3 separate regions of the Homo sapiens genome follow, and regions 1 and 2 are each linked to region 3. The links come from fine-mapping of genetic effects on gene expression. A gene starts in region 3. Each other region holds a variant in brackets. All regions are shown on one strand. Distances are between the middles of the regions.

Region 1 (10,925 bases), 33 kb after region 3:
AACCAGAACCACTTAATAAATTATCTGTCCTTTCTCTACAGATGCTGCTTCTATTGTATTCACTTACCCTTCAAACAGGTAGTCACTGCTTCATTCCCCATGGCCTAGAATAGTGCCCCTAAAACAGGAGTACCCAATAATGGGCAACATGCCTGTACTCCTGAAGTAGAGTGTTCAATCTTTTGGCTTACCTGGGCCACACTGGAAGAATCATCTTAGGCCACACGTAAAATACACTAATACTAATGATAGCTGATGAGCTTTAAAAAAAAATGGCAGGGCACGGTGGCTCATGCCTGTAATCCCAGCACTTTGGGAGGCCAAGGCGGGTGGATCACGAGGTCAAGAGATTGAGACCATCCTGGCCAACATGGTGAAACCCTGTCTCTACTAAAAATACAAAAAAAATTAGCTGGGCACGGTGGTGGGCACCTGTAGTCCCAGCTACTTGGGAGCCTGAGGCAGGAGAATGGCGTGAACCCGGGATGCGGAGCTTGCAGTGAGCCGAGATCGCGCCACTGTACTCTAGCCTGGGTGACAGAGCGAGACTCAGTCTCACAAAAAATAAATAAAAATAAAAATAAAACAGCTTCATTGAGGTATAATTGGTATATTAAAAAACTGGACATATTTAATGTATCTAATTTAATGAGTTTCGAGATACACATACATCCATAACACCATCATCACACTCAAGGCAATAAACATATCTATCACCTCCAAACATTTCCTGCTGCCCCATCTCCCTTTTTGTGGTAAGAACACTTAACATGATTAACATGAAATCTACATTCTTAAAAAAATTTTAAGTAGGTAATACATTTTCGTTGACCATAGGCACAATGCTATACAGCAGCTCTCTAGTACTTATTCACCTAGTATAACTGAAACTTTATACCCATTGAACAACAACTCTCCATTTCCCTCTCCCCACAGCTCCTGGCAACAACTATTCTATTCTCTGTCCCTGTGAGTTTATTTCAGATTTCTCATATAAGTGGAGTCATGCAGTATTTGTCATTCTGTGCCTGGCTATGTCACTTAGCATGATGTCCTCCAGATTCATCCACCTTGTCACATATGCCAAGATTTCCTTCTTTATTGAGGCTGAATAATACTCCGTTGTATGTATATAACATATTTTGTTCATTCATTGATTCATTCATTTTTTTTTTCTTTTTTGAGACAGTGTCTTGCTCTGTCTCCCAGGCTGGGGTACAGTGGCATGATCTCAGTTCACTGCAACCTCCACCTCCCGAGCTCAAGTGATTCTCCTGTGTCGTCCTCCCGAGCAGCTGGGATCACAAGCACCCACCACCATGCCCAGCTGATTTTTTTTTTGTATTTTTAGTAGAGACGGGGTTTCACCATGTTGGCCAGGCTGGTTTCGAACTCCTGACCTCAAGTGATCTGCCCACCTTGGCCTCCCAAAGTGCTAGGATTACAGACCTGAGCCACCATCCCTGGCCCATTTATTCATTTTTGATGGACATTTAGGTTGTTTCCATATCTTGGAATAATTGTGAATAATGCTGCAATGAATATGGGTGTGCAGATATCTTTTCAAGATCCTGATTTCATTTATTTTGGATACATATACAGAAGTGGGATTGCTGAATATAATAGTTCCATTTTTAATTTTTTAAGGAAACCCAGTACTGTTTTCCATAGTGGCTGCACCATTTGGCATTCCCACCAACAATGTACAGGGTTTCCATTGGTCCACATTCTTGCCAACATTTGTTATCTTTTGTTTTTTGATAATGGCCAACAGGCATATGAAAAGGTGCTCAATTTCACTAATCATTGGGAAAAAGCAAATCAAAACCACAATGAGATATTAACTTACACATATTAAGATGGTTATTACATGTGTATCTTTCCGGCCAGGCTCTGAGCTCACAATCACAGGGATTGTGTCTTTTTTGTCTTTATCTCCAAAGTCTAGCATAATGCTCATATGTCAATAATTGTTCTGGTAATTTTATCCTAAATTTGCCCTAAATATAATTTCAAAAGAGCTTTAGGGGTAATAGGGCATGAAACAAAATTAAACTATGTTTTGAATTTCTTTCTTCAATACTCAGAGACAGAGAAAATTATAACATTCAATTACATATTTACTTTTATTTACATTAGTAAGGCTGTAAATTATGAATGTAAATGTGCTTAGCTAGAACAAATATTGCTCAGAATAAAAAAGATATACAAATATAATGCTAATATACAATATAGGCTATCATAAAAATTTGTATTTGTGTACACACATACATAATTGGCTACATTCGACAATGGGGTTCATTTGATTCCTCCGTAGTAATTAGAACAGGAGACTTAACTGATTACAGCCATGATGCGGTTACTTAAAAACACACACACACACACGCACACAGGCACAGGCACACACATGCACACCCCACATAAATAAGTTTGGGAAAATTTTAAATTTTCTCACTTAGGACTTTTCAAAGCCATCTCAAAGGAGCTTCCTCAAAACATTTAATGTTGGCATCACCCCACAAGTACTCAGAAATAAGTGTTAAAATAGAAATCCAATCCAGTAATGGGAAACTGACTTAGATTATCTTATTTGTTTGTATATTTATTTGTCATCTATCTCTCTTATTCACTGCTCTATTTTCAACATCTACAATAGTGCTTAGTAATGAATACACATGCAGTACACAAAGGTGCTAACACAATATATGACTAATGATGAGGGCTATGCACATTTATACAGAATGAGAATTATTTAGTCCAAAAAATATCTGGAAAGCATAAATGCTGTAATTGGATAAAGCTAAAATTCTATTACTCTATTGAAATCAGATATCAAGTGATACTTTTAAACTAAACGTGAGGTAATGGTTGAAAAGGGATTAAAACACTGGAATTTGGGCATGCCAAATCCAAATCATTGAATATTCAATTACAGATCTAATAAAGCAGGTAGACCATGAATAGGATAATTGCATATGGAGACCTTGGTTCCAGTCGCGACTATGTCACTGTGAGATTTTGGCCAATGAGGTACAATTTCCTCAATTATAAAATGCATTAGAAATAGCTGCCCTCTCTTCTTTACAGAAGTGTTGTAAGAAACAAATACAATCGAATTTATATACTCTTATTATTTAATCATCCATTACAAGCAAAATGTAAATGTGATTGTCCTTACTACAATCAACACTGAAAACAGTGAATTCAGGATGTTGCTGTGGCAGGCCAGAGGTGGGTCTCTTGAGTCTCCATTGAAATAACTTGCTGGCCAGCAAGTTAGTGGACAGCGTCCAGCTGCGCCTTCTGGATTGGCCACAGCATTTGCAGGTCTTTTTTTTTTGTTGTTTTTCTTTTTCCCAGGATAGCCCCAGACAATGACTTAACAGGATGGGGCACTAAGACCCAGACATTACTGCCCAGCATAACACTGTCTCCTCTCTGGGCAAACTTTGCTTTGGGCCTCACTATGAGCTGGCCAAAACTCTCCCAGAGCTGTGTCTGAATCTCATGCTTTTTCTCCTCACTCCCCACACCTCCCCTCTTCCCTCTCACAGGTGGGAGCCTGAAAGCCCACCCCATACCCATACTTCTGTTTCTTCTCCCTTTTATCTTTCTCAAACATTAACCTCCAATCAGTGTTTGCACTTCTAACTTTGTCCTGGTGTCTGAGTTCTAGAAAACCCGACACCCAATCCCTCAAACCCCAATCACCAGAAGCAGCCCATGTCAGTATTTTCCATTTTATATTTTTTACAGAAGTGTTCAAATACACAAAAATATTGTAAGCTTTTTATTGCAAGATGTTTAATTTCTTTTTTTTCTTCCTTTTCCCCTCATTCTTGCTGTCATCTTAAGGATGCTGAATTTCTACTTCTTTTTTCTTCTTGGAATTATATGTTGTATTTGTGAACAAGAGACGATAAAATATTATTTCAAACGTACACCTTATCAAATGCTAACCCCCACTTGACATTCACCTATTTTATCAACAGCAATGGTTGAGAGGACTCATAGACATTTCTTGAGAACATAGCATTGAATGGCATGGCCTCAATGAATCAGTGAGTTGGAGGTATCAGTAATCTCCCAATAGCTTTTTAGGGTGAGGGTCAGATTCCTTCTTAATGTGAGCCTGGAGCTCTTCTGTAAAGTCCTTGTTTCCATACTGTCCCTGGCTTGTTGAATTCCAGTAGAGAATGACCAGCAACCATACAGCTTTTAGCTTTGACCGGACCAGTGAGTTCTTTCGTATCCAAGCTCCAATTTAAACACTCTTGTCTCTTGGTTCTATGTAATCCTCTGCAGGCATACTCTACGATAGGCTCAGCTGGGTCTCAAAAGTTCCAGCTTTACAAATAGCTTCTTCATTAAATGCTCCTGATGTAACTTATAGGCATCACTTCACATTGACCTTGTGAAAGGAGAACACCTGAGCAGGTATTTGGATAGTGGGTAGATGCTAAGAGCTTTTCCCAGAGAGCTCATTGTCTGCTGTCTTACAAAAGAGATAATCCTGCACATTGTTTTTATTGTTTTCATTTGCTTCTATTGCCTTTTAATTATTTTTGGTTTTCTTTCTGCATCAATGCTACAATTACATAAATACTCTATGAATTTCCTTTGTAAGCTTTGGTAGCATTTGACATCATGATATACTGTTATTTTCGACAGACAGTATGTTTTTTAAAAAAGCTTATTCCCACTAGAAGAGTTTATTTATTTTAAGGTGGTAAATCTGTATTTTCAAATTGTTTCTATCT[T/C]TCTCTCTCTCTCTCTCTTTTTTTTTAAATTAGCTTTTCAACTTGATTGTAAAATGTCACAGCGCAGAGAATGTACCTGGGAAGATGAGCTTGCATGGAGCCAGGCAAAGCAGATTACAATCTGGGCTCTCTTCTCATATTGAGTAAGATCAATAGCTACTTCGAGCCTCTGTTTCCTCATCTTTATTGTAAAACAATAATAAAATTAAATCCTCTTAACCTCTACAGGGAATAATATCATGGCCTGTGCAACGTTACTGCAAGAATTAGCACTAATTTGAGGACAGTTTTTCTCTGTCTTTGAATGGAAGTCCATAATTGGAATTGTTAATACAATTTTTAGTTTCCCTCAGACATATGCTTGCCTGAAGGCTAGTGTAGGATATAATCTGAGCTCTGTACTATGAATGTGTTAATTCCATTTGACTTAAAGCTACTTGAAGCAGATGATGCTGGAGGCTGGTCCCATGACCGTTTCACACCCTAGTCAGAGGATTTTCAGTTTCTGTCTTCAAGGTGACATTCACAATTGCTGGTTTTCCATACCACATTTCTTCCCTATACTTGAATTTCTAGGATTACAATAAAAGAGAGCTAATATTCACCAACCCAACACCTTTTTTTTTTTTTGAGACGGAGTCTCTCTGTCCCCAGGCTGGATTGGAGTGCAGTGGCGCGATTTCGGCTCACTGCAAGCTCCGCCTCCCGGGTTCACACCATTCTCCTGCCTCAGCCTCCCGAGTAGCTGGGACTACAGGCACCCACCACCACGCCCAGCTGATTTTTTGTATTTTTAGTAGACATGGGGTTTCACCATGTTAGCCAGGATGGTCTTGATCTCCTGACCTCGTGATCTGTCCACCTCAGCCTCCCAAAGTGCTGGGATTACAGGCATGAGGCACCGCACCCAGCCCAGCATCTTTAGTGTAAGAAATCATCCACACATTGTATATATGTAAGGCCCAACAACTGACATAAAGGCAGCGCAGTGTCCTGTAAAGAGCACAGATTTGGGAATTTCCCATAGACTTGTCTTGCACTGACTGCAAACATTTAAGCAACAGCTTCTGGTGCCCTTTGCTGCTCGCCTGTATCATGAGCATAATGGCTATGTTTATAGTATTTTTTGTTGTTGTTTTTTAGAAGATACTTTTAAAACCCTAGTTTTTATTTTTATTTATTTTCCAGTGGCCAGTTACTAGAATGTTTTTATTTTTTGCATGTTATAAATATTTTCTCTGTGGTTTGAACTTTCAAAACCGTGAGTGATTTTCCACTCTCTGTTATAGAGTGTTTTTCTTTTCTCCAAAGTTAAAAAAGTTGTCCCTTGAAGGCACAGAAAATAAACTTTTGAAATCAATGAAAACAATGGAAGCGCTGAATCCAGTAAACCAAAGATAACACAAAGACCAGGCTACAGAGGCAAGAGGTGTCTGGTGAGAGGGAGTGGCTGAGTGAGGTGACACTGTTTCCTGTGGACCCCAGTTTTATCTTTCCCATCAATTAGTATAATGGGAAAATTCTTGTAGTGTTCGATGATGTCTTCTACTGAATCAAACTTCTGAAACACAGAAAAGAAAGTTAATGACTTTTAAAATATCTTTTGTGTCTGTAGGTTAAAGTATAGCCAAGGTGCTTCATTTTGCATGGGGAAGAGGTGAACCAATTTAACAATGTTTGTATGGTAAAGGTGTTTCAGGAAGTGGTTTTTGGTTTGTTTGTTTTTTTCTGAGACGTTGTTTTGCTCTGTCACCCAGGCTGGAATGCAGTGCCACAATCTCGGCTCACTGCAACCTCCGCCTCCCGTGTTCAAGTGATTCTCCTGTCTCAGCCTCCCAAGTAGCTGGGATTACAAGCATGCGCCACCACGCCCAGCTAATTTTTGTATTTTTAGTAGAGACAGGGTTTCGCCATGTTGGCCAGACTGGTCTCGAACTCCTGACCTCAGGTGATCCACCCGCCTCGGCATCCCAAAGTGCTGGGATTACAGGCATGAGCCACCACGCCTGACCGGAAGTAGTTTTTAAAAAGAATATGGCAAGCTTGAAGGATGAGTGATAAGAATGATAACAAGAGAGAAAAAAATTCTTGAGAGAACCAAAAGTGAGCCCTATGGCAGCTCTTTAAACTTCCTATACAGGGAGTTTCCCCTCTCTGGAATCAGATCACACTGGTCAAGTTCCATTCTATTGTTATCACAACCTTTCTATCCTAAGGACTCAGATGGGTTAATTACACAGCAATCAAGCCTTGGAATCTCTGTTGCCTCCCAAACCTCAACCTTAGCTCTGACCAGCAAAAATATAGAAGATGTAGGCTCGAATGTAGTAAATTGGTGGGCAATGCCTGCAGTGAGCTTGCCCTCCAGTAACGAAGTCTAAGGAATTCTAGTATACATAGAAAGAACAGGGACAACCACGGGGCTGCTTAGCTAATTTAGCTGCCCTCCTTAAGCTTCTTGTGAAATAATGAGGTAGCTGCAGATTTCAGTGTTTCTAGATACACAGATAAAATGTTATGACAATTTAACGGAAAGTAAGATTATTTCAGGTTTAGGGAAATGGGGAAGTGCTTTGTCAAGGACACAGACTTGAAATGGGCTATGTTATGGGTCATTCCAGATAAGTAGACAGGAGGGTTTAAAGACATTAAAAGCAGAGAATGTACAGGACCATGCATAAGGACAGGTATTGAGAAGACTTGAGCATATATAGTAATTTTTTTTTTTAATTTCAACAGCTTTAGAGGTATAAGTGGCTTTTGGTTACATGGATGAATTGTATAATGGTGAAGTTTGGGCTTTAGTGTACCCATCACCCAGATAATATACATTGTATGTACCCAGTAGGTGATTTTTCATCCCTTAGCCCCCTTCTCACCCTCTCCCTCTCTGAGCCTTCAATGTCCATTCTGCATACACAGTAATTCTGATCAGGTGAGTTTGGATAAGTTCCTGAAGGAGTATATTGGGAGATAATTAGGAAGAGCTTGCTCAACCTGCCTCCCATGTTTCAAGACAACTTAGATCCTCCTTAGCAAGCCTGTGAGGTGAACAGGGCAGGGGGAATGATCTTCCCTAAAGAGCGAAGGGAATTTCAGCTCAGAGAAGTGGACCGCCTTACTCAGAGTCTCCCATGGCTAGGGAGGATGAGACCAGGAATGAAGGCTCACTTTTCTGGATACTTCTTTTTATTTTTCAGCTTTGCCTATAGCTTGTGACCTCTGATGCTCCAACAAACCAGGGTAGAGATGACATAGCCTGAAGAAAGGGAGCCGTGTGGGGGCTACTCTGCCTCTGATTTGGTTTTGTCCACTCCTTCCTCTGTCCGGGGCATCCTAGGTGCAGCAATGTTGCAAGGCCTCAGGAATAGCCAATGGAGAATGAGATTGGCCAGTTAGGACCTCACAGGGATGACGTTCTGTTGGGAGCAGGCAGAAAATAATTTCCTATGCAAACAAATAATTTCATTTAGAGCTATGTGCTGTGAAAATTGTCCGTTGAGGCTTAAGAACTTCACCAGGTCGCTCAGAGGCTTCCCTCGGGGCTGTTGGGAGGGAACGTTCTTTTCTGTTAGAGGCGCACTGAATAGAAAGCAATTAAAACGCTATAAACCTGTGACTTCCAGGGTCATCTCCTCCTTCCCACCGTCATGTGGGATGGGGGGAGGGGGTGTGTGAAGAGCAAACAGACACCACGCTGGGGATAAAAACGTGGGGAAAGAAATGTAGAGTGGGAATGTCTTGATGTTAACTAGTCCCTGGATCGAGTCCATTTCTGTCCTTTCTGGTTACATTACAACACATTTCCTTCTCTCCCGCCTGAGCTCATTTGAATTGGGGTTTGTCTTTTCACACCCAAAGAGTCCTGGTTCAATCTGTAAGTCCCTTGTCCTTCTGAAACCTTTACTGGATCTGCAGCAGTTTCCAATGAGATAACCTATGTGTCAGTCTGACTTAGTGTGTTCAGCCTGTTAAAATACTAGGCCAGGCGTGGTGGCTCACGCCTGTAATCCCAGCACTTTGGGATGCCAAGGTGGGCAGAACACTTAAGGTCAGGAGTTCGAGGCCAGCCTGGCCAACATAGTGAAATCCCCTCTCTACCAAAAATATAAAAAATTAGCCGGGCATGGTGGCATGTGCCTGTAATCCCAGCTACTTGGGAGGCTGAGGCAGGAGAATCGCTTGAACCTGGGAGGCGGAGGTTGCAGTGAGCTGTGATGGCGGCACTGCACTCCAGCCTGGGAGACAGAAGAGACTTCATCTCAAAAAACAAACAACAACAAAAAGTACTATAAACCTGGCAGCTTAGAAACAGCAGAAATGTATGTCTCACTTTCTGGAGTCTGGGGAGTCCAAGATCGAGGCACTGGCAGATTCAGGGTCTGGAGAGGCCCATTTTCTTGCCTTAATGCTGTGTCCTCACATGGTCCAAAGAGCAATGCACTCTTTTACAAGGGAACGAATCTCATCTGTGAGGGCTCCACCTTCAAGACCAAATCACTTTCCAAAGTCCTCACCTCCTAACACCATCACCTTAGGGCTTAGGATTTCAACACATACATTTTGGAGGAATACAAACATTCAGACTACACCACCACCCATATTACGTATACAATAAATATGAGTTTCTACCTGATGCTAAGGTAAGGTACTTTCCCCATTGTCCAATGGGGAGATTAATCTCTACTACAGCAGGGTAATTGTAACCAGAGGGCCTGTGGAGCCTAAATGCCTGAGTTCAAAGCCTGGCTCTCCCAACCACTAGCAGTGTGACTGTCAGCAAGTTTCTTGCATTCTCTGTGCCTCAGTTATTCTATGAACAGTGATGGTAACGATAGGACCTAACTTTGAGATTCATTGTGAGAATGGAATTGATGCATATGCAGTACAGCATTCAGAAGAAAGTGTGACACACAGTGAGTGCTCAGCACATGCCAGGCCTTATGATTAACTCCTCCCTTCTAGCTTTGCCAAGAACATCATGAGAGAGCAATGCAATCACCAAGAAGTTTGTAGACCATTACTGTAAGCCTTTAGGAAGAGAAGAATTTTCTGTATTTCATTTCCAATTTTAAACCAAGCACAAAGTTTTCTTTCTCTGTCTTCATGCTTGCTAAAACAAAAAGTGAATAACAACCACACACAAAAAAACTTTTTATGCAGAACTCTTTCACAAAATTGGTTAAATCCACATCACAAAAAAGGAAATCTTTCCTAGTTTCAGTCTTCAGAGGGAAGATGATTTCTTTGTCCTAGTATCATTCCTGTTTTAAGATTGTCCCAAAATAATACATTTGCTATTAATTGTTTTAATAATCTGCTACATGGATGACATTTCATATGAAATTGTAACTTTAACAGGTAGTAGGCAGCAAGACAGGTGCAACTAGTCACACAGTATTTCCTATTTTTTTTTTTTTTTTGAGATGGAGTCTCACTCTGTCACCCAGGCTGGATTGCAGTGGCACAATCTTGGCTCACTGCAACCTCTGCCTCCTAGATTCAAGCAATTCTCCTGCCTCAGCCTCCCAAGTAGCTGGGATTACAGGCATGTGCCATGGCGCGCAGCTAACTTTTCGTGTTTTTAGTAGAGACAGGGTTTCATCATATTGACCAGGTTGGTCTTGAACTCTTGACCTCAAGTGATCCACCCGCCTTGGCCTCCTAAAGTGCTGGGATTACAGGCGTGAGCCCCCGCGCCCAGCCTGGTCCTTTCTTATTATTGGTTTCTAATGATGGGGTCAAAATTGAAATATTGCCCTGAAGAGACTTTTTAAAAAGATTATATTCAAGCTCTCTTACATATTGAATAATCTTTTCCAGGGGGACAACCAATGTTATGCTATTATTAGATCTTAAAATCTGTTTAAACCTTTTGTGTTTATTCTATATATGAACTGTGGGCGATGTTTCCTTGCCAGAAAAGTAAAGAAATCTGTTTGGGTACACACATGAGAGTGAAAGAAGGAAAGGGGGAGAAAAGAGAAAGAGAGATAAATGCCAAGCAAGCAGGAGGAGAAGGAAGGAGACAGAGAAGGTGTGAAAAAAACCCATGGGTTAATTATTTGTCTCTGTTCTTTAGTCTTTAACGTTTAGTTTATCATGTAAATATCTACGGTGGTTTTTAGAAACTTATAAACATTTGTAGAACAAAAGGAGAGATCT
Region 2 (10,925 bases), 460 kb before region 3:
AAGATCATGCCTTGTTTCCACATCCCTCACCCTCCTCGTGTTCATCCGTTCCTGCATACCCAGCTTGAATTCCTTGGCTCATCCCTTTAAATATTTATATGCCCATCCACCCCCTTTCATTACATATGCCTGGCAAAACCCCAGCTGGTTAAATCTCTGTCTACTGGGCATCTACAAAGCTCAGCTTGGCTGGAGAAAAACATATGGCTGTGTTGTCCTTTCTCACCTGAAATTCATGACCACCAACCTCAAGAAGGGTTAAGGCTCCCCTGCACTGAGTCTACAGATTCCTGGTCCATCCAACACCCTTCTCTCCTAGAGGACTATTTCATATGTTTTCTCTCTCTCTTCAAATCCCCTTTTTATCATTCTCAGCTGATGACCATGCTTTCTTTTTCACTGAGAACACAGAGGCAATCCCAAGAGACCCTTCCCACATGCCCTCTGCTTGTATTTCTGCACCTGCATCTGTGCCCAGACACCTGCCTTCCCTTGTTTTCCAACCCTGGTGCAAACCATGTCCTCTCTCACCTGCGCTATTGCAAGGTTCTCCCAACCAGGCTCTGAGACCCCCTGATAACAGCACACCTTTCCAAATGCAAGTCAGATCAGTTCTTAAAACGTTCCACTGACTTCCCATTTTGCTCAGAGGAAGAGTCTCAACCCTCGCCTGCAAAGTCCTCAGGATCTGACTCCAAATATCCCATCTAGCTTCCTATGATTATCTCTACACTGACCTCCACTCTCATCTTCAAAGAAGTGGAGCCTCTTCTTGCCCCTGGGCTTTTGCACCTGCTGCCTCCTCTGCTTGGAGAGCTATTTCCCAGGGATGAGCGTGCTCACTCCCTTGCTTCCTTCAGTGCTCCCTGCACAAGTCACCATTTTAGAGAATCCTCTGAACAAAGTGGTGAGCTCTTCACCCTCCCCAGCATCTTCTGACCTCCTTGAGCTGCTCTGTTTTCTACATTGGTCCTTGTCACAGGCCGAATGGCACAGTCTGCATGCTTGTTACTTGGCTGTGCTCCCCGCTTGGCTGCATGCTTCAGGAGGACAGGGACTTTGGCAGCTTTGCTCATGCCTGAGTGCTTGGCACATAGAAAGTACTCAACAGATATGTGGTGAGTAAATAATCGGATGAGGGAACGGAAAGTGTGCAAGCATACAAGGATGCTTAGATGCAAGCAAGGATGGCCACACTGGGGAGATGTGATAGAAAAATTCAAGCATCGAGCATTTTCCACCCATCCTTCCATTTATCCAACAAATGTCTACTGCTTGCCTGCTGTGTACAAGCTGCTGTGTTGGGTGCTAGGGGCCATAAATACATATGGTTCTTACGTTGAAGGGCTCCCTTATCAGGGAAGAGACGGGAACATAATGAAATGAGTACAACCCAAAATGCCAAGTGACGTAACACAGGGAACTGAAAGTCCTGTGTGAGCTCAGAGAAGGCCAATATTTAGTTCTGGTAGATATGTCCTAGGCAGTGGGGGATGGGGTTGAAGATTTCTTATGATTTCTAACCCTGCTTTCCCGGCTCATGCGTCTGTAATACCAAAGGGGTTGTGTCCATAATAAAACAAACCAGTGATGCAGGGACAGCTTGTACCATTGAAGCCTCTTGTTTTGGATGTGTTGACTCTTTGTTTTACACTTTGGAACCCTGCCGTCCCGAAGTCTTCTGGTCTTATCTACCATGCCCAGGCTTTCTCCTTATGTCCCATCATGAACCCAAGTTTCCTTCTTCCAGAGTTCTTGCCATTCTCACTATGCTTAGAAGACTAGTCAAGTCTTCTAAGGCTGGGAGAAGCAGGGTTGAGGATCAGGTTTCCTGGCTGGCTGGTTATCTCCCTATCCCCTCAGGGATTCCCCCAGCTCAATGAATGCTGGCTTCTAAAGGCTCAGGGTTGACTCTTCTCCAGAAGATTGACATTGGCTCTGAAGGTGGATCCCCCTTTCCCAGTGCTGCCTGCAGCGAGTGACAGATGAGTGGTAGGGGTGGATGCAGCCCCCTTACTTCAAGTTGGGTGACTCTGTGGTGTGATTATGCCCCAGAGCTCCCCCAAGTGAGGCTAAACTTGACCAGGGAGTGCAGCCTTGCCTGGCTCCTTCCCCTGCTGCTTTCTGCTTTCCCCACCTTAAAGATTACTCCTGAAGAGCCCTTCCTCCACAAGCCATGTGTGCATCCCAATCCCTGCCTCAGGCTCTGCTTCTGGGCAATTGACTTTCTGAGACAATTCCAGCCTGAAAGAAGAGGTTGTCAGCAGCACGGTGTGTTGCTCAGTCATGGACTAAACTATGTTCCTGCCCCCTGGTTGAGAACCCTTGAACGCATGTAACCTCGCTCGGGCCAAGGAGATTCATGCCTGGGACTTTAACTACAATGATTGGAAGGAGAATTTCCATCAAGCTGGGGCCATCTTGCACCTCCACAGAAGAAACTGCCTGACAATGAAGCCAACAAAAAACAAGCTGAGCTGAGAGGTGGAGAAAGAGAGAGATTTGGATTTTTTTAAGGCTCACCTGTTAAAGCCCTAACCCCTAATGTGACTGCATTTGGGGACAGGGCCTTTAAAGAGATAATTAAACTAAAATGAGGTCACAAGGAAGCGGCCCTAATGTGGGATGATTGGTGTCCTTGTAAGAAGAGGAAGGGACACCAGGGATGCACACACACAGGGAGCACACAGCGAGAAAGCAGCCATCTGCAAGCCATGGAGAGAAGCCTCGGGAGGAAAAGACCTGCCGACACTTTGATCTTGGCCTTCCAGCCTCCAGAACTGTGAGAAAATGAATGTCTGTTTGCTGAAGCCACTCCATCTGTGGTATTCTGATATGGCAGCCTGGGCTAACCAATGCATGCTTGCCACATACACTGAAGGCTCCTCCAGCAGGCACCTAGAGAGACACAGTTATTTTCTACTACTATAAAATACAGATGCCTTTTAAAGGGTTGAAGTAGAAAATGATGAAAGCAAAAATAGTCCTTTTGACAACCTGCTATTTCCCTGGAGTGATGTATGGGATGCCTGTTGTTTGTGCTCACCGAACCTCCATCCTTCTTCTGGGAGGAGTTCCTCAAATTTCCACCAAGAAACCTTCCTGCCTGTCTCCACCTAACCATGGCTTCAGGAGTGGATGCGTGGTACAGGCCTGGCCAGTCAACATAAAATCACTCATCATTCTCAAGGCATTTAAGATGTGCTTTTTTAAAAGCACTTAATCCAGAGTGTTAGAATGTTATTTGCCAGGATTTTCTAACCTTGGCACTATTCACATTTGGAACTGGAAAATTCTTTGCTGTGGGGGTTGTCCCGTGCATTGTAGGATATTTAGAGGCATCCCTGGCTTCTCCTAGATGCTAGTAGCACCCTTGAGTTATGAAAACCAGAAACATCTCCTGGCATTGTCAAATGTCCCCTGATGAGGCAACATTGCCCTCTGGTTGAGAACCCTTGAACGCATGCAACCTCGCTCAAGTCAAAGAGATTCATGCCTGGGACTTTAATCACAACTATCGGAAGGAGAATTTCCACCAAGCTGGGCCCATCTTATACCTCCATGGGAGAGATTGCCTGACAATGGAGCCAACACAAAGCAAGGTGAGCTGAGAGGTGGAGACAGATTTGGATTTTTTAAAAGCTATCATCTGAGCCACTGGATTCAACCAAGTTATATTTTAGTTATTGTGAGCCAAGTAATTCCCTTTTGGGCTTCAGCCAGTTTGCTTTGGGTTCCTGTCACAGGCATTCAAAAAGCCTCCTTAGTGACATGAGACACTGTAAATTTGATCTCGTTCCACCCTCATAGCTGCTCCCTCAGGTGGGTTTGTTTATCTGCACTTTACAGATTTAAAAATTAAAGGGCATAGCAGCTGCCTCTTGTATCTCTACCATCCATGCACAGCACTGCTCAGAATCATAAAGACTTACATAATGAATTACTCAGGGGCTGCCTCCTTTGCCCAAGCATCACCTTAAGCCCCAGATGTTGTGTCTTTCTTGTTCACTGAAGCCCCAGTGCCAAAAACAGTACCTTACTCCTTGTAGGTGCTCAAAAATGTTTGTTTGGATAGATGAATATGGTTACGTGGCTTGTCCAAGAGTCTGGCCCAGGATCAGATTTCAAAGCCCATGTGTGTTTTCCTATAGTTTCTTATATGTTTTTTCTGCTTTGCTCCAGACGGAAGAACCAGATCCAATGATATGTGTAAGAAGAATAATTTCAGTGCAATTGAAAGAACAGATGCACAATTGACTCTGTCAAGTGATGGAATGACCCGTCTCAAATAAAGCCAATGAGGTTGGTGATGGTGAAGATGATGATGATGTTGATGATGATGACACTAGTGAACAAAGGCTGGGCGAAGAGTCTGGGTCAATTGTAGGGATGAACACTTCACATCCACCATTTCATTTAATCTTCACAACAACCCTCTGACATGGCCATTCTTTATCTTCATGTCATCGTGAACTAAGTAAAGATGAAAGAGTTTAAGAAACACATAGCTGTGTGTATCGGAGCCCAGACTTGAAGCTGGGCCCGTAGCTAGTGTTTGTACACCAAACATAGTCACTGTCCTGTCTCATGAGGGAAGGAGGGTCCTGTCACTATGGTCATGCAAGCAGAGGACAGAGGATGCTAAATGGGTCACTGAGCTTCAACCAGAATTCTTGATCGCTGAGAATTCCCTCAGCCAGAGACTCCAAGAGGTGAGGAACCTGCATCTGTGTGAGGCCCAGGTCATGTGGTATGGCCCATCTCCAGAGACTCTTCCTGGCCCCCTTTGCTTCCCTGCCCTCCTTTGTCACCGAAATCACAAACGAGCTCAACATTCCCTAGCTAGGAACAGCCCCACTGCTGGAGCAGCCAGTGACCAGCCCCATCGGAACTCTTCCCCACTTCCCTGGAATGTCTCCCCCAGCTATACCTTTGAGCACCTTCCACTGGGCCTCCCAGGCTGCCATTGCAGTTTCCTCTCCCTCCCTGAGAATCCCCATGGGAGAGGAATAACAGAGCATCAGGAAGGCGTTTCAAATAGCATCATGTCACAGGAAGAGTGTTGGCCTGTGGTCAAACACATGCAGATCTGAACTTCAGTTCAACTCCATTTTGAAACCTTGGTCCAATTGACCACTGGGTCTTGGACTCATCATTTGAAAAGTGCAGGTAATGATGCAAACATGGAGTTTTAAGAAGTAAATGATATATGGGATGTCAAGGACAAGGCAGGAGGTCAATAGATGGTAGCTTTCTTTTTCAATTTTTGCTCCTTTTCTCCCCAGCAGAGTTGCTCTTCAAGCTGAAACTTCAGCCCAAATCAACTTTTACTCTCATAATGATGAAAAGGAAACTGGCAGCTGCTTGGGGCATAACAACCAACACATCCTTTGATCTGATCTTTTTCTGCATCCTCACTTCTTTATGACTCCTCCATTACTTAGAGATTGAAGGTATTTTCAAAGTTGTTTTCTCTTTTGCTTTCCTTTTC[C/CTT]TTTTTTTTTTTTTTTTTTGTTGCCATGCCAGTGAGGGTAGTAAAGCTACTTTCATTGCCCTCATTTTATAGGTAAGAATAATGCTGGCTGAGAAGTGAGGTGTCAAAGTCCCTTGTAACACACCTGATACACAGCAGAGTCAGGACTTGCTGAGCCACGGCATTCTGACCCGATTCTAGTGTTCCTTTTCCTATTCCATCTGCATGGGTTCAGAGCCTCCTTGAGGAGCAGCCTTGGGGTATAAATGCCACGGTCAGGTATAAAGCAAGGAGACATCACAGGCCAGATCCTGGGGCATGGGGAGTGACTCCATCCCACTAGGACAAGCAAGAGGACCATGGGCAGGGTCTGGCTTGGGCAGGAGGCTTAGTGACCATGCCTCAGGGACCCTGGCCAGTGATGCCAATCTGAGTGCCAGCCTGTTGTCAAACAGTCATGGTTTTACAGTACATTCCCAGCATTGGGAATTGGCCCCTAACTAAGATCTGCTTGGCATAGTGGAAAGATCATGATTCCAGCCTAAGCTCAGCCACAGTGCAAGCTAGCTAAGCTTGTGCAGATGCCCTCACCTCTCTAACCTCCCATTCCCCATCTACAGACCCCACAGCAGATAGAAAATTAAACAAGAGAATGTGTGAGTGGCTGGAACCTTGAAGGACCTCAGACAATGGCATCTCTCACTACATCATGCAGTAGTTGTATTTCCAGGCCCTGAATTCCCATTAATTACTGCTCTGAAAGTGGGCTTGGGGACAAGGAAAATGTCAGCACCTCCCCTACCTCACAGGTATCACAGACCCTCATAAGCACCACTTGGATGTTTTCAGGGTGGCTTCCTGTCCCATCTTTTAGAAATCTTGCTTTGAAACATCGTCAACTCTAGTTTTCTCCTTGTTGGGCTGTGAGGAAGAATGTAAAGGATTCGGTCATTTCAGATTGTGAAATGGGCTCCTTCTTAATCGGGTTTCTGTAATCCCATGGTCTGAGGAGATTTTCTGGAGTCTGATAAATCTCCTCTTCAACTCACGTCAATGCAATAAGGAGGTTAGTCGAGTACTTACTAGGTAGTGATGTCAAGGTGATGATGAGGGAAATGCCAAATAATGTGGTCAATGACAAGAATTTTTATTTATTCAGCTACAACTCATGGCCATTCTCCTTCCATTCATTTGGTCTAACTCTTGTAACATTCCCTGCAGGTAGAAACTATCATCCCTATTTTACAGATAAGAAAATTGAGGCTCAAATAAATTAAATGATTTGGCCAAGGGCACACAGCTAGTAAGTGGAAGACACATGATTCAAGTTAAGACACGAATGTTCTGGCCCCATCAGATTGATGTGACGACTCCTCCATCACTTGGAGAAGCTCTACTCTTTCCACACACTGCTCACTGGCTCCCAGGATGCTGTTGTTATGAACAAGAATACAGAGAAAGCATTGTTTGTGGGGATTCATTGATAAGTCAATCTGCTCTGAGAGAAGGATTCCTGTCTAAAATAAGTGAGGAATGAGGCTCACAAGGTCAAGTGAGCTGATTGGAGAGGGCCTGGGTAGGAAAGGCTGATATGAAGTTTTTGATTCTCACTGCTTCCTTATTTGTAATGTAAATGATCTGAAATGACCTAAATGTCTCTCAGTCAGGGAGTGTGGCTAAATAAATGATGAGACAGCCATATAGTGGAAGACTGTCTAAGCAGTCAATTTTCTGGAAAAGCAGATCTGTATGTACTTACGTGGAACAATTTCCAAGGCACTGCACTGTGTTTTCCATTTGCCCCAACACCCAGATCAATTCCCCTCCCCTCCCTGCTCTGCTCTATGCCCCGGGAGCATCTCCTGGATGGCAACATGACTTCCTGGTTTACTGGCTTTCACATGGGTGTGACCAGTGTGCACCTCTGCAGCAGGATGGAGGGTGGGAGGAGGGAGGGGTCAGGGCATTTCTTCCCTGCTCCTCCCCCATGTGGGTGCTGTGGCTCTGACACAGCCCAGTCCCTATACGCTTCTGCTGCTGCTCATCAGCCTGCAGTCCATGGCTTCAGTTATCTTTGGACCTTGGTCTCTGATTTCTTCCCCTTTCCCCTTTGGGCATTTGAATCTCTCCAGTTGAACTGCCTGAGTGGAGTTCTGTTGCCTGTCAGGACCCTGACAATGACACAGATATATTATGAACATGGAGGGCACCCCCAGATAGAGACAGCCTCCTACTGACCTCCCAAGAACCTTTCCAATCATCTTCACAATTAACGTCCCCACAAGTCCACCGATGGCGAATATGGACACAGTCACAGACCAGAGCAAAGTCAGAGTGTCTGGGTCTATTGGACGTCCATGCCTTCTTTCCCATGACTCATTGTAAAAGGCCTTGATGTACTGAAAATAAACAACAAACCATGTTATTTCCTTCTGTTCTCTCCTGCTGCTTGAAGCAAGCCAGTGTACAAAACAAAACAGCTTGTACAGAGCATTTTCATGCATAGCACTTTGCTAATTTGTTTGAGCTTTATCTCATTGGCCTCTTCTAACAAATTTTGGGAAGAGCAGAAGATGTTAATCTTTATTATATTCAAATGAGCATTTTTTTTCTTTTATGGCTAGTTTTTTTGTGTTTCTTGCATCTTTGCCTATCCCAAGGTACTTTTTTTGTAACAAAATGTTTCCTCTTTTTACCTCATTTTGGAGATAGGGAAACTGAGGCTCAGGGAGACAAAGTGACTTGCTAGGTAAGTGCTAAACCTGGGAGCTGGACTCAGATCTGACCCCAAGCTTATGATGAGCTTCATAGCTGGGCTTCTCCAATTCTAGTGCACCGCAGCATTGCTGTGGAGGTGTGTTAAAGGGCACATACCGGGTGGGCGCAGAGGCCCACACCTGTAATCCCAGCACTCTGGGAGGCTGAGATGGGTGGGTCACTTGAGGCCAGGAGTTCGAGATCAGTCTGGCCAAGATGGTGAAACCCTGTCTCTACTAAAAATACAAAAATTTGCCAGGTGTGGTGGCATGCACCTGTAATCCCAGCTACTCAGGAGGCTGAGGCATGAGAATCTCTTGGACCCAGGAGACGGAGGTTGCAGTGAGCCAAGATTGCGCCATTGCACTCCAGCCTGGGTGACAGAGTGACACCCTGTCTCAAAAGAAAAGTGGGGGGGCACATACCTAACAAAAAAAAAATAGGCAAAAATGCAACACACACAAAAAAACTAGCCATAAAAGAAAAAAAAATGCTCATTTGAATATAATCAAGATTAACATCTTCTGCTCTTCCAAAGACGTCATTCAGAAATGAAAAGACAACCCATAGACTGAGATAACATATTTGCAACACATAGAACTACAAATAAATCCTATCTACGATATACAAAGAACTCTAACATGTCAAAAAGGAGGCAAATGATACAATTAAAAATGAGCAAAAATTTGAACAGACTCCAGAGAAAATACAAATGACTGGTATGCTAATGACAGAATGCCTGACATCATTAGTCAACAGAGAAATGAGACCACAAGGAAATACAACTTCACATTCACTAGAGTCTCATCGCTGCCAATTCTGATTCAGTGTGTTTGGGACAGGGACTAGGTGATTCTGATGTACACCAAAGACTGAGGTCCATGGCACTAAGCTCCAAACAGAGTTCAGTCCCCAAGGTACTTAGAGTTCCCTGTTGCTACCCAACGTGAGCCCGCAAACCTCAGCTGAGCCAGTATATGACACTGCAGAAAAAGCTTAGGTTCAGGTCGCTCAGACCTGGGCTCAAATCCCAGCACAACTTGGTAATGATTTAAATCAGCTGAACCTTGGTTTTCTTATCTGCAAAATGGGAATGATGACATTGACCTCTCAGGGCTGTTGTGAGGGTCAAATGAGAGCTTGAAGCAGTGGCCAGTACTTGAATGGAGCTTACACAATCCCACATAGACTAAAAATTAAAAGATCTGGTAAGACTGAGGAGTGACAAGCAGTGTGTTGTCTGCTGGTAGGAGTTTGACTTGTACAGCCATCTTGGAAAACAGCTTTGGCATCAGCTAGTCAAATGGAAGATGCCTGTAGCCTACAACTCAGCAAATCTACTTCTAGAAAACTCCCCTGAAAAACTGTTTCTGGGGAGCCCTAGGATATATGTACTCAGATGTCCATGGCAGCATTGCACATAATAACTCCAGACGAGAAACAGCCCAGGTGCCCATGGTCGATAGCAGGAATAAACAAATTGCAGAATCATCATCATATGAAACATCACAGCCACAAACATGAATGAATACAGCTCTGTCCAAACACACATGGGAAAACCTGGCAAAAATAACACCAACCAAAAGCAGCCAAAAACAAAACATACACAGTCTGATTCCATGTGTAAAACCCAAAAGTATGCCAAATTAAAATTTTTTGGAGAATTATATATAGACGGTAAAACTACAAAGAAAGAATTATTTCAAATGTCAGGTCAGGGGTCATCTCGGGGGATGACAGAAGAAATAACTGGGGAGGGACACTTGGTAGGTCCTTCTTTTTTTTTTTTTCAGGCTGGAGTGCAGTGGCATGATCACAGCTCACTGCAGATTTGATCCCCTGGGGTCAGGAGGTCCTGGTACTTCAGCCTCCCGAGTAGCTGAGACAGACGACTACAGGTATGTGCCACTATGCCTGGATAAATTTTTTTTGTTTGTTTCTTGTACAAAGGAGGTCTCGCCATGTTCCCCAAGGCTGGTCTCAAACTCCTGGGCTCATGCGATCCTCCCGCTGCAGCCTCCCCAGACCTTTTATTCTTAACCTGGATTGTGACATGAGTGTTAGATTTATACTCAGTCTTTAAAGTGTGTGTGTGTGTGTACGGGCACACAAGCATAATGCATATGTGTGTATTTTATATACTCTTTTGTATGCATAATACATGCTGCCATTTAACATGGAAAAGAAAAATGGTAGGAAAGTGTTCCAGGCAGAGGGAGAATTATGCCAAGACAGCAGGACAGAAGAAAGCTTGGGTGGCCATGGAATTGCAAGGAGGCCAATAGGGGAGGAACAGGACCAGAAAGGGAAGGAGTGGGCTGGATGAAGTTGGAGGGGCAAGAAAGGGCAGGTCATGTGGGCCTGATAGGTCATGGAAGTTAGCCTGGTTTTTACTTGGATTCTACTCTAGATGAAGTGGGAAAGTATTGGAGGGTTTTTGGCAGGGGGAGGACATGGTGTGGCTTGCATTTTCAGAGGATCCCTCTGGCAAGTGGATGAAAGAGGAGCTAGACAGGAAGCCAGGCACACTTGGGGGGCACTGCAGTGGTCCAAAGATCATGGTGGACTTCACTAAGCAATGGAAATGGACAGAAGTGGATGGATTTAAGATATATTTTGAGAGTAGAATAGGTAGGACTTCCTGGGTGATTGGCTCCAGGTTTGAGAACAGATGGTGTTGCAGAAAGTGAAAGAAGAT
Region 3 (10,925 bases):
AGAATAAGGTACAGCATGAGCCAAAGATGACTGCCACGCACCAAAGGCAAGAGGCACGGTGTGTCACAGATGTGCTCTCTGGACTGAGTCTTATCTTTCTTCAAAAGAAAGACCTGGAAATAGCCCTGAATGCATTCACTGTTGGTGGGTTTTCTTTTGATTTTGAGCTCACTTGCCCTGTTTTCTTAAAGACTTATTATGGGGACATAAAAACAAACAAAGTATCGAGTTTGGGAGAATCCACATCAGTGACATTGAGGGCTATAAAAAAACATAAAAGACTGTGTAAGTTCCTATTAAAAACGAAGCATTTGACTTCTAAATACTGGAAACATCTAATGCTCAATAAAATTTGAAGAGAAGTAAGTGGTAACATAGTGTTTAAAGGTAGAGATTCTGGAATCAGATTATAAAGTTTAAAATCCCAGCTCTATCACTTTCTAGATATACAACCTGGGTATACCCACTGTTTTGATTCCTTACCTGTAAAATGAGATAGAAACAGTACCTACCTACCCCACAGAGTTACTGTGAGGATTAAATGACTGACATATCATAACCTGTTAAAAATATTATTTTCCATTTTTTAATTTAAAAAAATACCAATCACATAGTCAGAGGGGCTAAAATACAGTTTTCTTAGCTGCCTAATTAACTGCTGTATTCAGAACATGCCCTGAATCTCACTTTATATTTTATTTGTTTGGTTATACCGCCCGAAAGATAATTTACCTCTGTGGCAAAACCACCCACCTAGCTTTAGTGCAAAGGGGCTAACAGCCATTTATAATTACCATAGAAAAGATGCTCCACTTACAAGAGTACTCACTACAATTTAGGTTTATATATAAACTAGTTACGAAACTACCTTTTCCTCACCCACTTCTCTCAAAGTTCAGCCAAATTGTGAAATATCCCTGTAGCAAATGAATGTGTTTCTGTGATAAATGTTAATGTGAAAAGGAAAGGTGGGTGGCCAATTATATCGCATACATGCTACATGGACCACCACATACATTTCTGTTCAGGAGATGCCCAGCAAGCTCAGTGTTAGTTGACTGTGACTGCATCGTTTTTGGATGTAGAAGCAAACTTAAGCAGCTCTTTTCAGGAATGCTGACCCCAAAGTCCGCCTTTGAATGTGGCTCTACCATACTCATTGCTGGGGCAGGGTATAGCTGCTGTACCCATGAAGATCACATGAAATGGAGTGGCAGGGTTTACAGTTCCAACTCTGATCCTGTCCCTCATTTGCAGGGTCCTTCAGCAAATAATTTTTCTCTGTGCATTGCCAAGCAAGGAATAATGCTTTACCGTAAGCAAACTTAAAGGGCGATCAGGAGATGCAAACTAGATAATGTATGCAAAGCATTAAGCCCAATGGCATAACCACTTACAAATTATATCTATATTCCTTCTGTCTCTTTCACCATAGCAAAGGCTTGTCTAGCTTTCCCAGTAACCAAATTTTTAAAACAATTCTACCCCAAAGTGCCCAGTGAACAATTAAAATCAATCAGGAAAAAAAAATCAACATTAGACATCAACTGCCAAAATTTCCCCAGTAGGATGATATTGAGGAAGAAACTGTTGCCTCAGAAACAGCTTTCTAAGACCATTAATATGAATGTGTGATGGGGAAGGCAGGACATCTGGGCCATAACTGAATTATGTCAGCTGTTTGAAAGCATCTTCTTGGCTTCTAAACTATGCTCAAAATAATGCAATGTTATTACATTGCATTATACTACAAAATGCTGGGTAAACAGATTTAAAAGAGGAAAAAAATCCATTAAGTGTCATAATCTTTTTGCCAAACTACCTTGCACTGAGATGACTGAATTGCAAATTGACTGCCATCCTGATGACGAAAAATACTTCCAAATGCTGCCGACAAATGTACCCATGCTTGGGATCCTAGATTTCCATCTGAAACCAAGTGTACTGCTTGGGCAGCAGAATGGACCAAGACAGCTGCAGGAGACAGCCTGATTCCTCTGCTTTTCCAGGTGAAAGCAGCTGAGTGTAACACAGTAGAGAATAATGACCTTGGGACAAGAAGAACAAGGTTCAAAACCTAGGTGTTTGGTTTACTAGCACATGATTTCAAACTTGTTAACCTATCTGAGCCTGAATGTTCTCACTTATAAAATGTGAATATTTCTCATTTATACAGCTGATGTGAGGACAAATGAGAAAAGGGTGTATGCAAGTGGGAGGTAACTTTATGCTTGGCAAAGAGTAGATGTTTCGTTAAGAAATCAGTCAATATATTTTTTTAAGATGGCTTCACAGGTAGAAGAGTCCAGTAATGTCCAGAGAAGCAGACACTGGTTAGCTTAACAAATGAATCTGATGAGGCAAAGGTCTGTATCAACATGAGTTCATTAGTCGGCAGGAAGTGAGGGTCTTCTCCCCACCCTGTCTACAGGGAGTATTTTGGAGATTGACTTGACACTGCTGTGCACATCAACTGAGTCTACATCAGGAAACAAAGGAAGTGATATTATAGGCTTTTTCTTAACATTTTAAGAAAAAAATATTTGTAAAAAAGAATTTAGAGTGCTTGATGTCTAAAACTTTGTATGTGAAAAAAAAATGTGAAAGAGCAAATATGCTCTTGTTAAGCATTAAAAATACATATATGGTAAAAATAAGGTAGTATCACACGGCATATTACAAAATTTTATGTCATGAAGCACATCAAATGACTCCGGGTCTCTGAAGGTGCTAAAAATGAGACGTATATTTTCACATTTCTTTTTTGCCTTAAAAATTTGCAGAAAGAAATGGATTCAGAGTTTAATAAAACAGTATAATCAAGCACAGAAAAAATATCTCCCATTAAACCAGTAGTTCTTAACCTTGGTTGCATTAGGGCAATTGGCCTGTCATGTGCCCGGGATATTATTTTTTAAAGGAGGTCCCTGGGACAGCTGGTCACCCCACTGCACACCAGAATTACTTGGAAGCTTCAAAAATAATGATGTCCCCCACCACCCGCAAGACTCCACTGTAACTGGGGAAGAGGTGGGGATACTGGGATCTTTAAAAGCTTCCCAGGTGATTCTCATATGCAGCTATGCAGCCAAGGCTGCAAACCACCTGATACTACAGGTGCAGGTGCACTTGGGAATGGCAATAGTAATATCGACATCCTTGTACAAGATTTTATATTCTTGTGGGTGCCTGGAGGTGGGGTGAGGCCACCACCCCTGGGCTGTCATGGGGCAAACAGACAAGCAGACTCAGGGTTCCACCCTTGCCTAGCCCTGTGACCTTGGAAACACCAATGATGCTCTCTGTAAGATGTATAATGAGGTATCTACTTTGTAGATTCTTAGAAATTTGAATGTTCCTGGCACAGTGCCTGGCATAGTGTGAGTACAATGAGCACTGCCCAGGACTGTTTTATCCCCACACCTGCTGTGGGCTGCTGTTTTTAAGGAGTCTAACAGAAGATGGAGATAAGTAAATGGGTATGATAAGTAGAGTAGTGAATGTTCTATCAATGATCTGATCAGAGTGCTCTCCCAGAGGCTGGCTGCTTGTCAATCACGGAGCACCTTGGCCCAAGTCAGATGGAAAGAGTGCCTGCATGAGCAGGTTCCTATGTTACCTCGAAACTTCTCAAAGCCAGCCTTCAGTTATCTGCTTCTTCCCTGATTAACAGGTCTGGAGAAGCTATATGGCTTTTTGAAGATCACAGAGTTGGTGAACAGCTGCAACTGGGTCCAATCTTACATTCTTTGTTTTCTGCTACCCTGCTGTGTGAAGCTGTGAAATGAAGCCATAGTCAGTATCTGCTGCCACTTGAGCACTGTTCTTACTTCCTGCCTGTAGCCTTGGAGTTGCAGATGTAAGTCAAAACCGTGGCAAGTCCCATGGGCTCTTCCTTCTCTTTCAGGCCTTCTCTTCTCAGGCGTGGACTGCCATGAGTTTCACAACCTCAGGCCCTGGTGTAGGCTTCTACATCAGAACCCTGGGCGTCAGCAAGGCGCTGCACAAAGAGGCCTGCAACAGAAGCCAAACACTTGGGTTTAAGTCCTGGACCGGCACAGCCTTGGTTTCTCAGAGTGTTGAAGATAAGGGGAATGAGCCCCAGAAGTGGTTCTCAAGCAGGGGTGTATGGCAAAGTCACCCACGGAACTTAAAAAGGATTCCCAGGACTCACATGCAACCTAGCAGATCAGGTTACCATTTCCTAGGGTGGGGCTCAGGCATATGGTTTAAAATTCTCCCTAGTTGATTTTGATGCCTCCCCACCCTCACCCTATGATGACAATGTTTAGACTGGCTGATCTGTAGCTGCTTTCACTCCAAGGATGAATCCTGGAAATTGCAGTTAGCTGAGTTTGCATAACAAAGAAAATGCAGTAGACAGCAGGCAGTTTGAGAACAATCATGATTGGGGAAACCCTCCCTGGTAAGGATCTTGTTTATCATGATCAATAGCGAAGGGTTTGGCCAAGGAAGGCACTCAATAAGGTTCGTACTGGTTGAAAGAATGAGTGAATGAATGAATGAAAGAGCAGGCTTCACAGAGACAAAAATAAAATGTTCTTTGTTCTTCCTTTTGCACAAAAACTGGCCCCGATGCCCTTACTTAAAGGCAAATAAATCTCTAGAGATCTAAATGGATTTTTTTAATTGCCATTTTGCATTTTTAAGATCTTCAGATCGGGTATAATACATCAGAAAGGAGTCCCAATAAATAAAGGAATGCCATCCTTTGTCTGCTCTTTTCAAATTGCATTTGCAATGAATGTTATCAGCATAGCAAACTGTCTACGCAAAAAAGTGTTATTTTTGAAGGCTAAATTTGATCCAAGATGAAAGTAACTTTTAAAAATTGCATCCTAGTTAAAGATATCAATATCACACAATTTTAAAAAAGAACTATTTGTATTCTACTCAAAGAGACAACAGTATATAACATTGGTTTCTAAAACAATATTTTCTGAACCCTTGGCTGTGTACTGACATCATATGCTGGGCTGAACTTTGCATATGTGACTCAAGAGAGAGAAAAGAGATGTATTCCCATCCTCAGTCTCTGCTCTACTGTAGAAGAGTACTGCAAGCTTCTAGAGACCCAGGTTTGTCTTAATTCTTGGTGATTTCAAGTCTAAACTTAAGATGGTTTAAAGAGTCTAACACAACATTAGAGTTTAGCTACGTAGATTTGTACTTTTAAATAGGACATAATGCTCTGTAGTTTTTTTTTTTAATGTTACGTTGATAAATCGTTCATTATTACAATTTTTAAAGTCAGAGGTATTGTAACGGGATACATTAACTACCCAACTTATAAAGACTTAAGTGTTTTCTCCCGTTCGCTCTTTTGGCTTTTCCTTTCTGGTTAAGAAACTTTCATTCTTTTGAACCCTGCAATTTCTTGGCTTTACAGAGCCCCAAACCCCAAAGACACCAAGATAAGACGGGCAGGCCGGTATGGGGAGGTCCCACAATGACATCAGCATTTGGAACAATTCAAACCTTCACCATCTCTTCTCAACCTCCTATGTCCTCGCCCCCCGTAAAAGATGCGCAGGACCTCGATGGACGAGCCCACCCCTGACCCTCTCAAGGAAAGACAATGCCAGGCTGGTTTTCGAGTTTATTGTCGGCACGCTCCCCCGATGGCAGGCAGCATCCGAGGCGAGCGCGCCTGAGCCTGGGCGCTCGGAGGACGAGGCCAGGTGCATCGGGCGCATCGTCGTCTCCCAGGCGCGTCCCGCTCGCCGCGAGGGAAGGCCGGGGTTCTTCCAACCGAAGAAAACCAAAACCGTCAACGCTCAGCTCCGAGGCCCGCAGGAGGCTTTAAAAATGGCCTCCTGACGACACTTCCTGCTCGGCGCGGACGGTAGGAGCCCTCGGAGGAGGCATCCTTCATAACGCTGGGGGCGGGGAGCGCAGGCCGGGCCAGCGGCGCCACACGAACGGCCCCGCGGGACGCTGCCACCCCCGCCTCGGTCGCCCCGGCGCGTCGGCCGAGTCCGCGGGGTCGCGGCGCACAAAGGCGAGCTGGGGGCGCCGGGCCGGACCCCGACCCTAGGCCAGGCCCGCGTACCTGCTCAACGCGCGCCAAGCCGCGGCCCGGGCCCCCACCCCAGCCGGTGCCCCACGCCCACCAGCCGGAGCCCGCGTTCGGCCTACCCGGTGCCACTTGCCACGACGCCAGCCCTCAGCGCGGGCACGCGGGGCCGCGGCCGCTCGACCCGCCCCGGCCTGGCCCCGTCAGGCCCCCGCCCCGCGCGCCCCCACGACCCGGCCGCAGCTGGCGCTTCGGTCACGTACACGCGGATCCGGGGGCCCTCGCCCTCCCGCTCAGCTACTTACCCGGCAGGCCGGATTCGGGTGCCAGGTCCCGGCGAAGGGGCGTCTACACCGCCGGCCGCAGACCGCCGGCGCCGCGCCCGCTGTAGGTCCCTACCCGGGGGGCGGAGCCCGCGCCAGCCCCGCGCGTGCGCAATGTGAAGCGGCGGCGCGGCTCCAGCGAGGCCGGCGCCTGAGGTCTCTAAGGCTGCGCCCGCCCCCGCCGGGCTTCTAAGCTGTCCAGAGCGGGGAGCCTCAGACCCAGCCGAGCCCCACTTCTGGGCTTAGAGCTTGACCCAACACGTTCGCACCGTAGCGAGCGAGGTCCACATTTAGCCATGCCGCAGGCAAAAGAAGGATTCGGCTTCGGTCCTGGCCCAGTCTGCCATCCCGGGGCGCCTGCCTTGTACCGGGTCCCGCGGAGGGCGGCCTTGGCGCCTGCCTCCCTGGAGCCTGCAGTCCTGCAGTGGGTGAGTGAAAGCGAGAGAAGAGGAGCTCAGGTCCTCAGCCTCCAAACTCGTCTTCTTGGAGAGCTTCAGTGAAGGAGATGGCCTTGAAGTCCTGGGTACAAATCCTGACTCTCCCTACTCCTTTACATCTTAGCTGCTGGACCTTGGCGAGAAAGTCCCCTGACCTCTCTCAGTGTCTTCATTTCTGAAGACGGGGAAGGTCGTATGTGAGGCGCAAAGCCTCCTCTAGCAGTTGGGCGTTGCGAGGGTCAGAGGGGACAATGACTGTGGGAGTCTGGAGAGGGTGTGAGCTCATTTAATGCCAGAGTTTCTTTCCTGCCTCCTGGACTTCGGTGCTATTTTGGGCGAGCCAACTGCCCTCTAGATACACCTGCATCTACGGTCCGGAAGGAAGACATATTTAGAATAGAGCCTCTAAGAGGAAAGAAGAAGACCATATTGCCAGGTCCCGCACAATCAGTGACTCCCCACAAAGTGAAACAGCTCTCCAGCAGGGGCAGGTTGAGGCATGGGAGCAGCGTCACTGGGAAGTACAGTTTCTTCGGGATGAACAGCTAAAGTTTATTTCAAAGCTCTGGAGGCGGGGGCGGGGCAAGGCTGGTTTCCATCACCTTCCTGTTGGCGGCCAAAGGTCGGCGTGCACGGACAGCGGCCAGTATGCTGCACGGAGGAGATGTGGGCCTGGGCAGTACTGCCACACGGAGAAGCGGAGTTGAAGAAGACAGGCTCAGCCACAAGTCCAGCAGCTGGGCAAAACCTCCACCACTAAAGTATCAGGAGCTGGGCAGAGAAAATAGCAGCCCAGAGAGCAAATCCTTCTTCCTGCCCTAGGCTGCAGTGCTCCTAACCTCGGTCCTGATCAGGGAGCTGCTAGGGTCCTGGTTTTCTATCTCCTAGGGCTCAGAAAAGCTAAGGAACCTCTTCTCAGAAAAACACATTTATGTGCAGATAGCACCTATCAGAGAGAATATGCCAGAGAGTTCAAAGTCTCCCTCAAGAGTAGGGTCAAGTTGGGAAAGGCATTGAGAATCCAAACTAGGAGCCACTGCCTGAAAATCTCTAGTGGCAAACAGAGCCACATCAGGAAAAACTATTAATTCTAAGTATTGGAGAATCTGAGGTCTAGACATTAGAAAATTGTCCTAAACTTTATAAGGAGAGGCAACTCTCCTTATAACTTCTACTCATGCATCACAGTTCTGCCCTCTTAAGTCACACAGAATTGATGTAAGGTACCTGTGGGTCTCCTGGGAGTTTTTCTGAAGTGAGAACTGGTTATAAATCCCAGTTCGGCCACATAGAAGTTGTGAGCCTGTCTGAACCTCAGTTTCTCATGTAAAATTCAGTGAAAAATAGGTCCTTCCTCCCAAGGGGGTTGTCAACATTAAACAAGAGAAAGCAAGTCAGGACTTATCACAGTCCCTGGCAGATAGAAGTGACTGTTAACTTACTCTTCAGTAGCCCAAATTCAGGGAGATGAAATGCTTTGTGGAGTGTCTGGAAATGGAGTGTTTACAGCCTGAAAAAGGGTCAAGGAAAAATAGAAACTACTTCAGCAGAAACCTTTAAGGCTGATGTCCCTAAAAGTCTTTTGATGCTTGCAAATGTGAATCATCACACGTTCCCTACACGTCTGCCCTTCATGTCTTCTTCTCCACCCCCCAGCTTAGTTTGCCTAAATTCCGTGGATCACTTCTGTCACGAGTTGAATTATGTTTCCCAGAAAAATACGTTGAAGCGCTAATATCCCCCACCCCCAACTTATGGATATGACCTTATTTGGAAACACGGTCTTTACAGATGTAAGACAAGGTCATTAGGGTGGGCCCTTATCCAATGTGAATGGTGTCCTTACAAGGGACACCATTCTGTGTCTCTGTGAAGAGACGCAGAGAAGAAAATGCCATGAGAAGACATGGAGACACACAGGGAGAAGAAGCCATGGACAGAGGCCGAGATTGGAGTACACAGCCACAAACCAACGGCTGTTGGAAGATGGAAAAGGCAGGGAGGATCCTCCCCTAGAGGGTTCAGAGGGAGCATGGCCCTGTGGACCCCTTGATTTCAGACTTCTGAGCCGACAGAACTGTGAGACAATACATGTTTGTTTGGTACAGCCACCCTAAGAAATCAATGCACCCTCCTAGTTATGACTACCTAATGTAGGAGAGAAGAAGGAAGACATGAACCAGTCCTTGAGTATAAGATTTGGGAGCCAACGTTCATTCATTCACTCATGCATTCAACAAAACATGTATTGGGCTGGGCGCAGTAGCTCATGCCTGTAATCCTAGCACTTTGGGAGGCCGAGGCGGGCAGATCACCTGAGGTCAGGAGTTCAAGAACAGCCTGGCCAACATGGTGAAGCCCCGCCTCTACTAAAAATACAAAAATTAACTGGGCGTGGTGGCGGGCGCCTGTAATCCCAGCTACTCAGGAGGCTGAGGCACGAGAATTGCTTGAACCCAAGAGACGGAGGGTGTAGTGAGCCAAGAACGAGCCACTGCACTCCAGCATGGGCAACAGGGCAAGACTCTGTCTCAAAAAAAAAAAAAAAAAAACCAAAAAAAAAAAAACCGACCATGTATGAATGCCCATTCAGTGCAGGCACAGGCTGGTGCTGAGGCTAGAGGAATGACGAACAGGGTAAGGCTCAGCCCTCAGGGAACATTCATTTCTGGACCACGAGCCTTACAAATGCAATGACGGGGACTTGGGAGATGAGCTGTAAGCCACGAGTAGGAAGCTGCCACAAGAAGATGGAGAACAGGGGAGAGGAGAGCATGTACAAAGGCCCTGAGGTGGGCGCTTTTGAGGAAGAAAAGGAAAGGCAGTGTGGATTTAGATCATTCTAGGCGTCTACAGACTCTGATCTTAGAGAGCCCTTCATCAAATTCTGCCAGTGGGGAGCTTGGGGCTCAGAGGAAGGCCTCCACGAGCTTTCCATGATCATCCTTTCTCTTGCTCTGAACTTCCTTCCATGCTTCATTACCCACTTTTATATTCTCTCTGGCCTCTACCGCTCCCGAATATTATATGACTTGACAAAAACAGCACTGTCCATTGGAAAAGGGCCAGGTCTTTAACACCCAGGTCAGAGCACAGACATGTCAATCTCAGACACTTCAAAACTTTATGCATGGACAGGAGATCCCAGAAAGTGGCTTTTTTTTCTTCTAAAACATTTCAGAAGTTTTTAGTAACTTCCTTGAGCCACAGTTTGCACATCTGTAAAGGAGGGATAAAGGCCCCCCAAGCTCTGATAAGACAACCCCGGTTCTCAAGCTTACCTCGCCTCACAGTCCTGGGGTGCAGGAGGTTAAGGATGTAGAGCCCGAATCCCGAACTCATTTGCCATCCTTCCAGCTGTGTGGCCTTGGCCAAGTTACTGCCAGTCTCTGAGACGTTTTCTCAACTGCAAAACAGGAGTAACTGGAGCAACCTTTCGTGGAGGGTGCCAGGCGCTGGAGCGTGGCTAAGGCAGGGACCACGTCCCAGCCGCCCTTTCCCGCCCTGCGGCGCAGGCCCACTCTCTTGGCTCTCCTGGCCCGCACACTCAGCTCGGCCGCCGCGGCTGCCGCGGAAGCGCGCAGTGAGGCTAGTGGGGCCACGAGCGGCGCGCTGAGCATGCGCGCCCGATAGAGCCTCGAGATGCGCCGGGCCGCGCTGCGCTGCAGTACCGCCCGCGGCCTGCAGTGTCGCTGCGAGCCCGGCTGGCCCAGCTCGGCGTGTAGAGCTCTACCCCGCGCGGCGGGCGGTGCAGCCCCGCGCTCACCTGGGCGTCTTCGCTCCCGCTCGCCCCGCGCTTCCGAAAATCGGGAATGTAATGTTTTGTTTTTACATTCCAATTTGCTCCCTCCCCAGGCTGGCGTGGAATCCGAGGGTTCCTGATGACTGCAGCTCCTCGCCCCTCCCGCTGTGTTCCCGCCGCCTCTGGGCTGAAAGCGCCATCAGGACCCGTGGCGCGTGGGCTTTGTTAAGTCATTAACTGCTTGGGACATAGCAGGAGCATGGTGCGCGGCACAGAACAGGCTTGGCTTCCACGGCCCATCCAGGCGGAGCCGTCAGCGTCCCTTGCCTAGACCAGAGCTCTGGAAAGCGGAGAGGCGGACAGGGGCCGTTCCCCAGATCTGTTCC

Which allele goes with the higher level. Alleles are on the strand shown, and positions count from the first base shown. SD is a standard deviation of normalised expression in the study named. Not every link is listed here.
In carriers of allele C in region 1, the expression in Th1/17 cells of the gene that starts at base 6,452 in region 3 tends to be higher than with T alone (large effect, 0.87 SD a copy in Schmiedel 2018).

What was found.
Region 1: its variant is fine-mapped to the expression of ZNF518B in Th1/17 cells (Schmiedel 2018, PIP 0.90).
Region 2: its variant is fine-mapped to the expression of ZNF518B in whole blood (INTERVAL, PIP 0.98).

Annotation. Positions count from the first base shown.
Region 1 is chr4:10,484,293-10,495,217 of GRCh38, forward strand. It overlaps CLNK (cytokine dependent hematopoietic cell linker), which reads right to left. Exons shown (of 19, transcript NM_052964.4): 19 at 2,103-6,321. The coding sequence ends at 6,175. It overlaps LOC105374482 (a long non-coding RNA gene), which reads left to right and starts at 4,821. Exons shown (of 3, transcript XR_925387.4): 1 at 4,821-4,903. The variant T/C (reference allele first, on the strand shown) is at 4,761.
Region 2 is chr4:9,989,073-9,999,997 of GRCh38, forward strand. It overlaps SLC2A9 (solute carrier family 2 member 9), which reads right to left. Exons shown (of 12, transcript NM_020041.3): 3 at 7,709-7,869. SLC2A9-AS1 (SLC2A9 antisense RNA 1) reads left to right here. Exons shown (of 4, transcript NR_183862.1): 2 at 4,183-4,302; 3 at 10,021-10,125. Among named protein-coding and RNA genes, the nearest start is that of SLC2A9-AS1, 6.4 kb to the left of the region's middle. The variant C/CTT (reference allele first, on the strand shown) is at 5,492.
Region 3 is chr4:10,450,975-10,461,899 of GRCh38, forward strand. It overlaps ZNF518B (zinc finger protein 518B), which reads right to left and starts at 6,452. Exons shown (of 3, transcript NM_053042.3): 1 at 6,343-6,452; 2 at 3,831-4,014. RefSeq lists enhancers at 5,518-5,577, 5,560-6,375, 5,638-5,797 and silencers at 5,928-6,567, 10,378-10,547.